3 separate regions of the Homo sapiens genome follow, and regions 1 and 3 are each linked to region 2. The links come from fine-mapping of genetic effects on gene expression. A gene starts in region 2. Each other region holds a variant in brackets. All regions are shown on one strand. Distances are between the middles of the regions. Region 1 has its middle 50 kb from the start of GNS. Region 2 holds the start of GNS (glucosamine (N-acetyl)-6-sulfatase). Region 3 overlaps GNS (glucosamine (N-acetyl)-6-sulfatase).

Region 1 (2,761 bases), 49 kb before region 2:
CAGTGGTGCGATCTTGGCTCACTACAACCTCCACCTCCTGGGTTCAAGTGATTCTCTTGCCTCAGCCTCCTGAGTAGCTGGGATTACAGGTACCTGCCACCACGCCCAGCTAATTTTTGTATTTTTAGTAGAGACGGGGGTTTCACCATGTTGCCCAGGCTGGTCTCGAACTCCTGACCTCAGGTGATCCACCTGCCTTGGCCTCCCAAAGTGCTGGTATTACAGGCATGAGCCACCATGCCCAGCCAGTTTTAGTTTTTTAGCAAGTTCTTTTCTTATCTGCTATCCTGTAAGTCCAAGAATTTAGTCATTTTTCTTTAACTTTTTGGGGCACGGTTTCACTACAGGTACCTACAGTTGGGTGCAGTGGGTGCAAAAGTAATCGCGGTTTTTTGTCATTGGCAAAACTTTTGCACCCGCCTAATAGATTTGGCAAAAGGCTGGCCCAGTTTCTCTCAGTAAACCAGCTTCGGTCATTATATTAGTTATATATTGCTGCATATCAAGTTACCCCCAAACCAGCAGCTTACAACAGCATTAAACATTTTTTAGGCTGGGCGCAGTGGCTCACGCCTGTAATCCCAGGACTTTGGGAGGCCGAGGAGGGCAGATCACCTGATGTCAGGAGTTCAAGACCAGCCTCGACATGGAGAAACCCCGTATCTACTAAAAATACAAAATTAGCCAGGCGTGGTGGTGCATGCCTGTAATCCCAGCTACTCAGGAGGCTGAGGCAGGAGGATTGCTTGAACCTGGGAGGCAGAGGTTGTCCTGAGCCGAGATCGTGCCATTGCACTCCGGCCTGGCCAACAAGAGCGAAACTCCATCTCAAAAAAAAACAACAAAAAACAAAAACCATTTTTTAGATCATGTTGTTATATTCTGTGGGTCAGGAGTCTAGTAGCAGCTTAGCTTGATGGTCCTTGCTTGGTCTCTCACGAGGCTGCAGTTAAGATGATGGCTAGGGCTGCAGTCATCTGAAGTCTTGACTGGGGCTTGGAGGATCTGCTTCCAAGGTGGCTCTCTCACATGCCTGGCAAGTTGGGGCTGGTTGTTTTCAAGAAGCCTCAGATCCTCACCATGTGGACCTTACCAAAGATCTACTTTGGTGTCATTGATATGGCAATAGTTTTCTCCGAGAGTTATCCAAGAGAGAGCAAGGCAGAAGTGGCCATGTCTTTTAGGACCTAGTTGTGGAAGTCACACAGCATCACAGGTGCCCTATTCTACTGGTCACATGGACCAACCCTGATGCATTGTGGGAGGAAACTGCACAAGGATAATTAGGCGCCATCTTGGAGGCTGGCTACCACAGCCATGCTGGA[A/ACC]ACAGTTAAATGAGGCATACAGAGAGGAGCCCTCTTTTTACTTGTTTTCTGACAGCAAGGCTATAGTGCAGGACAAGAAGACACTTGAATGGCAGTGGCACCTTCTCCTCTTAGTCTGAAACCATAGTTTCCCTGTAAGTACAGGTATGAGAGACGAGTTCTCTTTTCAGTCTACATAGTAATGTCCTGGAGGAATAGAATAATTCCCTTTTGTAACTAAGCTCACCACCAGGCAGAGTAGGCACTCACATATATAATGAGGTGGGGACACAGCCTCACAGATCATGGTGACAGCAGAGTTAATGGAAAGATGGCTTTAAAACCACATCTTTGAAATTCTGACTCTTCTTTGACGAATTAGCTTTGTGAGTTTCGATAAATTAAGCTGAGGGAAATAAATCTATCTTATGGAGCTGTTTTATCCTCCTAAAATGATAATTACAAGCATCTTTATATCTCTCTATCCTTTGAGAACCTATCATCATCAGTTAGAGGTGCAGGTTATGATGACATATATGGATATCAGTCTCACCAGCAGGTGATCATGAAATCTTCCTCTCAAAGACTAAGATTTAGAATTGTTAAGGCTGGGCGCGGTGGCTCACGCCTGTAATCCCAGCACTTTGGGAGGCCGAGGCAGGCAGATCACGAGGTCAAGAGTCGGAGACCATCCTGGCCAACATGGTGAAACCCCGTCTCTACTAAAAATACAAAAATTAGCCTGGTGTGGTGGCAGGCGCCTGTAATCTCAGCTATTCGGGAGGCTGAGGCAGGAGAATCGCTTGAACCCGGGAGGCGGAGGTTGCAGTGAGCCGAGATTGCGCCATTGCAATCCAGCCTGGGCGACAGAGCAAGACTCCATCTCAAAAAAAAAAAAAAAAAAAAAAAAAAGATTTAGAACTGTCATCTACTCTACCATACTCCAGGAGCTAGCTCCCATGTCCCACATCTAAATCTTGTCTTATTCAGTGATTCTAGGCCATCAATAGAGATCTCAGCACGATGCTTTTAGCTTGTATCCTTTGGGTTCTCTGGTTGTCAGCTCTTGCCTCAACAGACTTTCGTGTATACATATTACCAGCCCTTTATATCCACTGGTGGTGGCTGGGTGCAGTGGTTCATGCCCATTATCCCAGCACTTTGGGAGGCCAAGGCAGATGGCTCTCTTGAGCCCAGGCGTTCAAGACCAGCCTGGGCAACATGGCAAAACCCCGTCTCTATTAGAAATACAAAAATTAGCTGGGCATGGTGGTGTGTGCCTTTAGTCTCAGCTACTTGGGAGGCTGAGATGGGAGGATCAGTTGAGCCTGGGAGACAGAGGTTGTGGTGTGCCAACATAGGGCCACTGCATCGAGCCTGGGCAACAGAGCGAGACCCTGTCTCAAAAAATAAAAATAAATCCACTGGTGGTAGAGGAAGATGAAACAAACACTACT
Region 2 (2,761 bases):
GAAGGACACTGAGCTAGGGTGTGTAACTACACAAGAAAAGTTAGGAACGTCTTGCCTGGAGTATTTCATAGTCTCAGCATTCAGCTGAAAGCAAAAAGAGAACTGAAACGAAGAAAGCAATAAAGCATTTGGTTTTAAAGCGAAGAGAGGAATGCTGAACCCAGGGTCAGAGGACTCTGCCTCAACTACTCATGTCTTGGGCAAGTTGCTTTCTGGGCCTCCATGGGGAAGGGGTTGGAGTGGATGTTTCCAAAGGTCACACATTCCATAATTCTGCAATACACAAGCAAAATTTACTCTGGAAAAAAAATGAAGTCTTGTGACAACACCCATTAGATAGAAAATGAAACACTGACAGTCTCTAATGCAACAGTCAGGTGTTCAATCACACTAATTGAATTTTCTTGATTCTTGTGAGGCAACACACACCCTCAATAGTTCGACGGTCGGCCTACCAGATTAGTTCACTTCAGGCCTTTTTTTTTTTTTTTTTTTTTTTTTTTTTTTGGAGACGGAGTCTCGCTCTGTCGCCAGGCTGGAATGCAGTGGCGCGATCTCGGCTCACTGCAACTGCTGCCTCCCGGGTTCAAGCGATTCTCCTTCCTCAGCCTCCCAAGTAGCTGGGACTACAGCTGCGCGCCACCACGCCCAGCTAGAATTATTGTATTTCTAGTAGAGACGGGGTTTCACCATGTTGGCCAGGATGGTCTCGATCTCTTGACCTTCTGATCCGCCCGCCTCGGCCTCCCAAAGTGCTGGGATTACATGAGTGACACACCGCGCCCGGCCCAGGCTTATTTTTATTGACATCAGATACAGACATTGTATACAGGCACAAACGTGGAGGTGGTCTAGGTCCCTCATAAAGGGGACTGGACTTGTCTGTGATCCTCTAATCCAAAAGAAAAACAATCAGGCCTTGAGTGCTCTTAGACAGCACCTGATCCTCATTGGTTCAACCCATCCTCCACTGGTCTCCACATGTTTATCTTGAGATATTAACGTAAACTCCACAGCAGTACGGTCCAGACTAGAAGCTCTGTGTGCTGTACGCATGTGCCTCAATCCAGAAAGGAAAAGAGTATTGCAGTCCCTTACACCGGCATAAAGGGCCTCAGGTGGGAAAACCAAACCTACCCAAGGATAAGACAGCCAGTTCGGGGAGGAGGGTGGTGGGGACCGGGAAAGAGAGCAACAAACCGGGTAGTCAGCCCAAGAGATAGAGGGGCGGGGCAGAAACAGAAGAGTTACCATGCCGCCGAGCACTTCGTCCTGGTCGTCCGTGAGGAGCAGCACCACGTTGGGCCTCCGGGTTCCCGCAGCCACCCCGAAGACCCCCAGGCAGCCGCCCAGCACCAGCAGTAGCAGCGCTGGGCTGCAGGAGGGCAGGTGGCGGGGGCTGCCCCGCCGGAGCCGACCTGGGGCTAGAGGCAGGAGCCGCATAGCGGACAGGCTCCGGGGTGACCCCGGGACGGGACGGGACGGAGGGACGCACAGGTAGCTGAAGGGCGAGAGGCCGACCAGCCGAAGGAATAAAAAGCCGTGCCTTGAAGGCCGGTGGCTGGAGTCAGACGTTTTCTCCCTAGGCGCGATCACGTGAGCCAGGGACAGGGGGCGGAGCACGCTGCGCGGTCACGTGACGGCCGGCGTGGGCGGGGCTGCGGACTGGCGCAGCCTGGAGGGAGGCATCAGGCAGTGGCGGAAAAGGGGCGGAGAACCGGAGAAAAGGGCGGAGAACCGGAGAAAAGGGCGGAGAACCGGAGAAAAGGGCGGAGAACCGGGAAAAGGGCGGAGAACCGGGAAAAGGTCAAGACCTGTACGTACCTCTCGCGCAGGCTCGGGTTGCGTTCTGGTAGGACGTACGTGTTTCTGAGCGCTTGGTGGAAAGATTTAAATGGGGGGAAGAGAAGATGAAAAGCAGGAAAGAGTTGGCAAATACTAACCAACCGATAAAGGAAGAGAAAGGAGGACTGTACATAACAGAAATTATCATCAGCTGGTGAGGAAAGTGGACTCTACCATATTTAATCCCCAAGTCGACGGGCACTTATTCAAGGCCCGGATGTTTAATCGTTTTTAATTTTCTCTACAACTTGTGAGATAAATCTTAACATTCTCATTTGGCTCAGACATTAAATTCGGAACTGGTTAGCTCTCTTAACTCCAAAGCCTAATTATGTTCTTCTTTCCTCAGCAGACATCGTAGTTTCAAACAATTTAGGGATGTCCTGACAGCTTTATCCTAATGGTTATCCTAATGGTCCTTGGTGACTTTTTAAACACCCTCTTGGAACATGTTGGAGGATGTGCAGATCGAACAAAAATCTTGAAACGTGGTCATCCAACTGCATTATTAAGTAATCTTTAGCGGGGAATAGCCCTTGAAACTAGCTCCAGATATTTCTGTGGTCGCTCTGGAATAATTAGACTTTGCCCCTCTCCTCTCACCGCCCACCGTGGGCGCGGTGGCTCACGCTTGTAATCCCAGCACTTTGGGAGGCGGGTGGATCACCTGAGGTCAGGAGTTTTAGACCAGCCTGGCCAACGTGGGGAAACCCCGTCTCTACTAAAATACAAAAATTAGCTGGGCGTGGTGGCAGGCGCCTGTAATCCCAGCTACTCGGGAGGCTGAGGCATGAGAATCGCTTGAACCCGGGAGGCGGAGCTTGCAGTGAGCCACTGCACTCTGGCCTCAGGGACAGAGCGAGACTCTTGTCTCAAAACAAACAAACAAACAAAAAATCACAGAGATATTCCTGGC
Region 3 (2,730 bases), 43 kb before region 2:
AGCTACTTTCAGCCATGTCTTACAAAGTGCTTAAAGCTGGACAGAAGACTTTAAATAAAGCTAAAATCGCTTATTGCCTGAGTTGAACAAGTTACAAACCACAGCTCTTCCTCCTCCCCTGCTGTCTCACCACCAATTAGCCTTCTTGTGAGGACAACATTAGAAATGGAACTGGTTTTTGAGCCAAGAAACATAAAAATTTAGGTGTTCTTAGCCAAGCGTGGTGGCTCATGCCTGTAATCCCAGCACTCTGGGAGGCCGAGGTGGGTGGATCACAAGGTCAGGAGTTCAAGACCAGCCTGGCCAACATGGTGAAACTCTGTCTCTACTAAAAATACAAAAAATTAGCTGGGCGTGGTGGTGCGTGCCTATAATCCCAGCTACTCAGGAGGCGGAGGCAGGAGAATCGCTTGAACCCAGGAGGCGAAGGTTGCAGTGAGCTGAGATCATGCCATTGCACTCCAGCCTGGGTGACATAGTGAGACTCTGTCCCCACTTCTCAAAAATAAAAACATTTAGGTGTTCTCAACAGTGAAGAAACCTGAATAGATTTGATTTTGACAGGGGAATACTGATAATCATACAAGACTCCAAAACTCAGGAAGAACCCATCTAAAAGGGGAGAAGGTAGGGTAAAGTAGTTGATACTTTGCATCAACTGTAAGAAAATTTTCCACCTTAAAACAAATGAAGAGAATGACAGAAAAATGCAGATAGAGCCAATGACTTCATACATGGAACTTAAATTCAAGCTCCCTGCTGGACAGGCACTTCTTTCCTTTATCCCTGGTACAGCCCTTCCACTTGTCTGTTCAAGAGCCCTGTCTTCAGAAGGCCCTCGGAAGAGACAACCTTCACCAACTCTTGGCAGTTCTTCACTGCTGATGTTCCTAAGCCACTTCATTTTTCAGATCTCAGAGGGGAGTCTCAAGAGAAGGGACCTTGCCTTAATCCTTCCAGTGTTAACTGGCACTCCCTGTGGTTGGCAGCCACTGGAAAGTAGATGGCTATCACCTTCAAGAGCTACCTGGAATTGGCCTTTATCACAAGCTTACTGCTCTATTTCAGTGCAGCACCAGCCTAGAATTCACAAAAACATGAACAGAGCTTGGGTGACATGTTTTGAATTTGCAACCTTACCACACTGTGATGAACATCATAAAAAATGTATCTCTACTTATCAATCAACAATGGTACTTGTTCTTACTTGGATGATTCAGCTCTGATGGTTACTCTTCAAGCCATGTGATGTTAGTATTTTTGATAGTGAAGTGCTCAATCTGAAATGCTACACAGGTCCTTTGACTTTAGGTCAAGCTTACATATCAAAAGGTGTGTCTGTGTGTTTGTGTGTGTCCTAAAGTACTGCCATTTATCTGAATGGGTTTACAAATTCAGTCTTTAACCACAAGAGGAATAATCAAGAACTGTGGCCCCAGGATAAAAA[G/A]AATACAGTGAGAACAAAGACCTCAGGAGTGTCCTTGTCAGCTAAAGGAAGAGACCAGAGACAGCCACTCCTGACACATGGGCAGAGTTCACAGTTTAACACATTGCACGAGGAAGTCAGCTGACTGGGTTGCTTTTTCAAACAGGACTTAAAGCCAGCCCAGAAACTCTTCCAGGTGTGGTCTTGAAGACTAGCTACAGACACCTACTACAATCACTTCATCAGAAAGAGGCGTGCAGGGATCCATCTGCAGAGGCTGTGTGAGGTCGCTACAGAAGATGTTTGGAAAATCTTCGAGTCCTGACACTGCCGCGATTGCTGAACATGAGACGGGGGTCAAACCTGTATCTGGGGAGGAAAAACCAAATGTAACATTAGCTCTCACTAGCTTCTCACTCAGAATATTATTCAGTGGAAAGGATAGCAGGAAGGGGTGTAAAAGAAACAAATCACCAGAAGGGACTCTAGTGAGAAAGTCTATGGTACAAAACATGAGCCCTCGACAGTTCCGAACATTTCTATCACCAGTCAGCACACACAAAGTCACACAGTGCAAGTCAAGAGGAGAAAAACAAGTAGGTTAGTCTTGAAAGGTGTCAGAAGGCAGCAAGATTTGAGATTTTTTTCTTTTGAGGGAGTAGGGGTGGATCAACTGTTACATTATTACAGTGCTTGTGTTCAAGTCACCCTGATTTTATTTAACAATGGCTCCAAACCACAAGAGTAGTGGTGCTGCCAATTCAGAAATGCCAAAGAGAAGCCATAAAGTGCTTCCTTTAAGTGAAAAAGTGAACGCTCTTGACTTAATAAGGAAAGAAAAAAATCATACAGCAAGACTGCTAAGACCTACAAGAGCCTCACCATAAACATGAGTCATTTTTGGTGGGGGCGCTGGCAGGGGGACAGAGTCAGTCTGTCGCCCAGGCTGGAGTGCAGTGGCACAATTTCAGCTCACTGCAACCTCCACCTCTCCGGCTCAAGTGATTCTCCTGTCTTAAGCCTCCAGAGTAGCTGGGAACACTGGCGTGCGCCACCACACCTGGCTAATTTTTTTTTTTTTTTTTTTTTTTTGTAGAGACAAGAGTTTCACCATGTTGCCCAGGCTGGTCTAGAACTCCTGGGCTCATGTGATCTGCCCGCCTTGGTCTCCCGAAGTGCTGGGATTACAAATGTGAGCCACCGCGCCCAGCCAGGAATGAATCTTCTATCTGTGAAATCATGAAGAAGGAAAAACGAATTCTAGTTTTGCTGCCACACCTTAAACTGCAAAAGTTAGGGCCACA

What was found.
Region 1: its variant is fine-mapped to the expression of GNS in whole blood (TOPMed, PIP above 0.99).
Region 3: its variant is fine-mapped to the expression of GNS in pancreas (GTEx, PIP above 0.99). The same link has a PIP of 0.9 or more in nasal epithelium.

The regions. Positions count from the first base shown.
Region 1 is chr12:64,708,371-64,711,131 of GRCh38, forward strand. No RefSeq gene overlaps it. Among named protein-coding and RNA genes, the nearest start is that of GNS, 50 kb to the right of the region's middle. The variant A/ACC (reference allele first, on the strand shown) is at 1,326.
Region 2 is chr12:64,757,834-64,760,594 of GRCh38, forward strand. GNS (glucosamine (N-acetyl)-6-sulfatase) reads right to left here and starts at 1,573. Exons shown (of 14, transcript NM_002076.4): 1 at 1,252-1,573. The coding sequence starts at 1,443. It also overlaps a transcript of TBC1D30 not described here. RefSeq lists an enhancer at 119-999.
Region 3 is chr12:64,715,025-64,717,754 of GRCh38, forward strand. It overlaps GNS (glucosamine (N-acetyl)-6-sulfatase), which reads right to left. Exons shown (of 14, transcript NM_002076.4): 14 at 1-1,795. The coding sequence ends at 1,717. Among named protein-coding and RNA genes, the nearest start is that of GNS, 43 kb to the right of the region's middle. The variant G/A (reference allele first, on the strand shown) is at 1,448.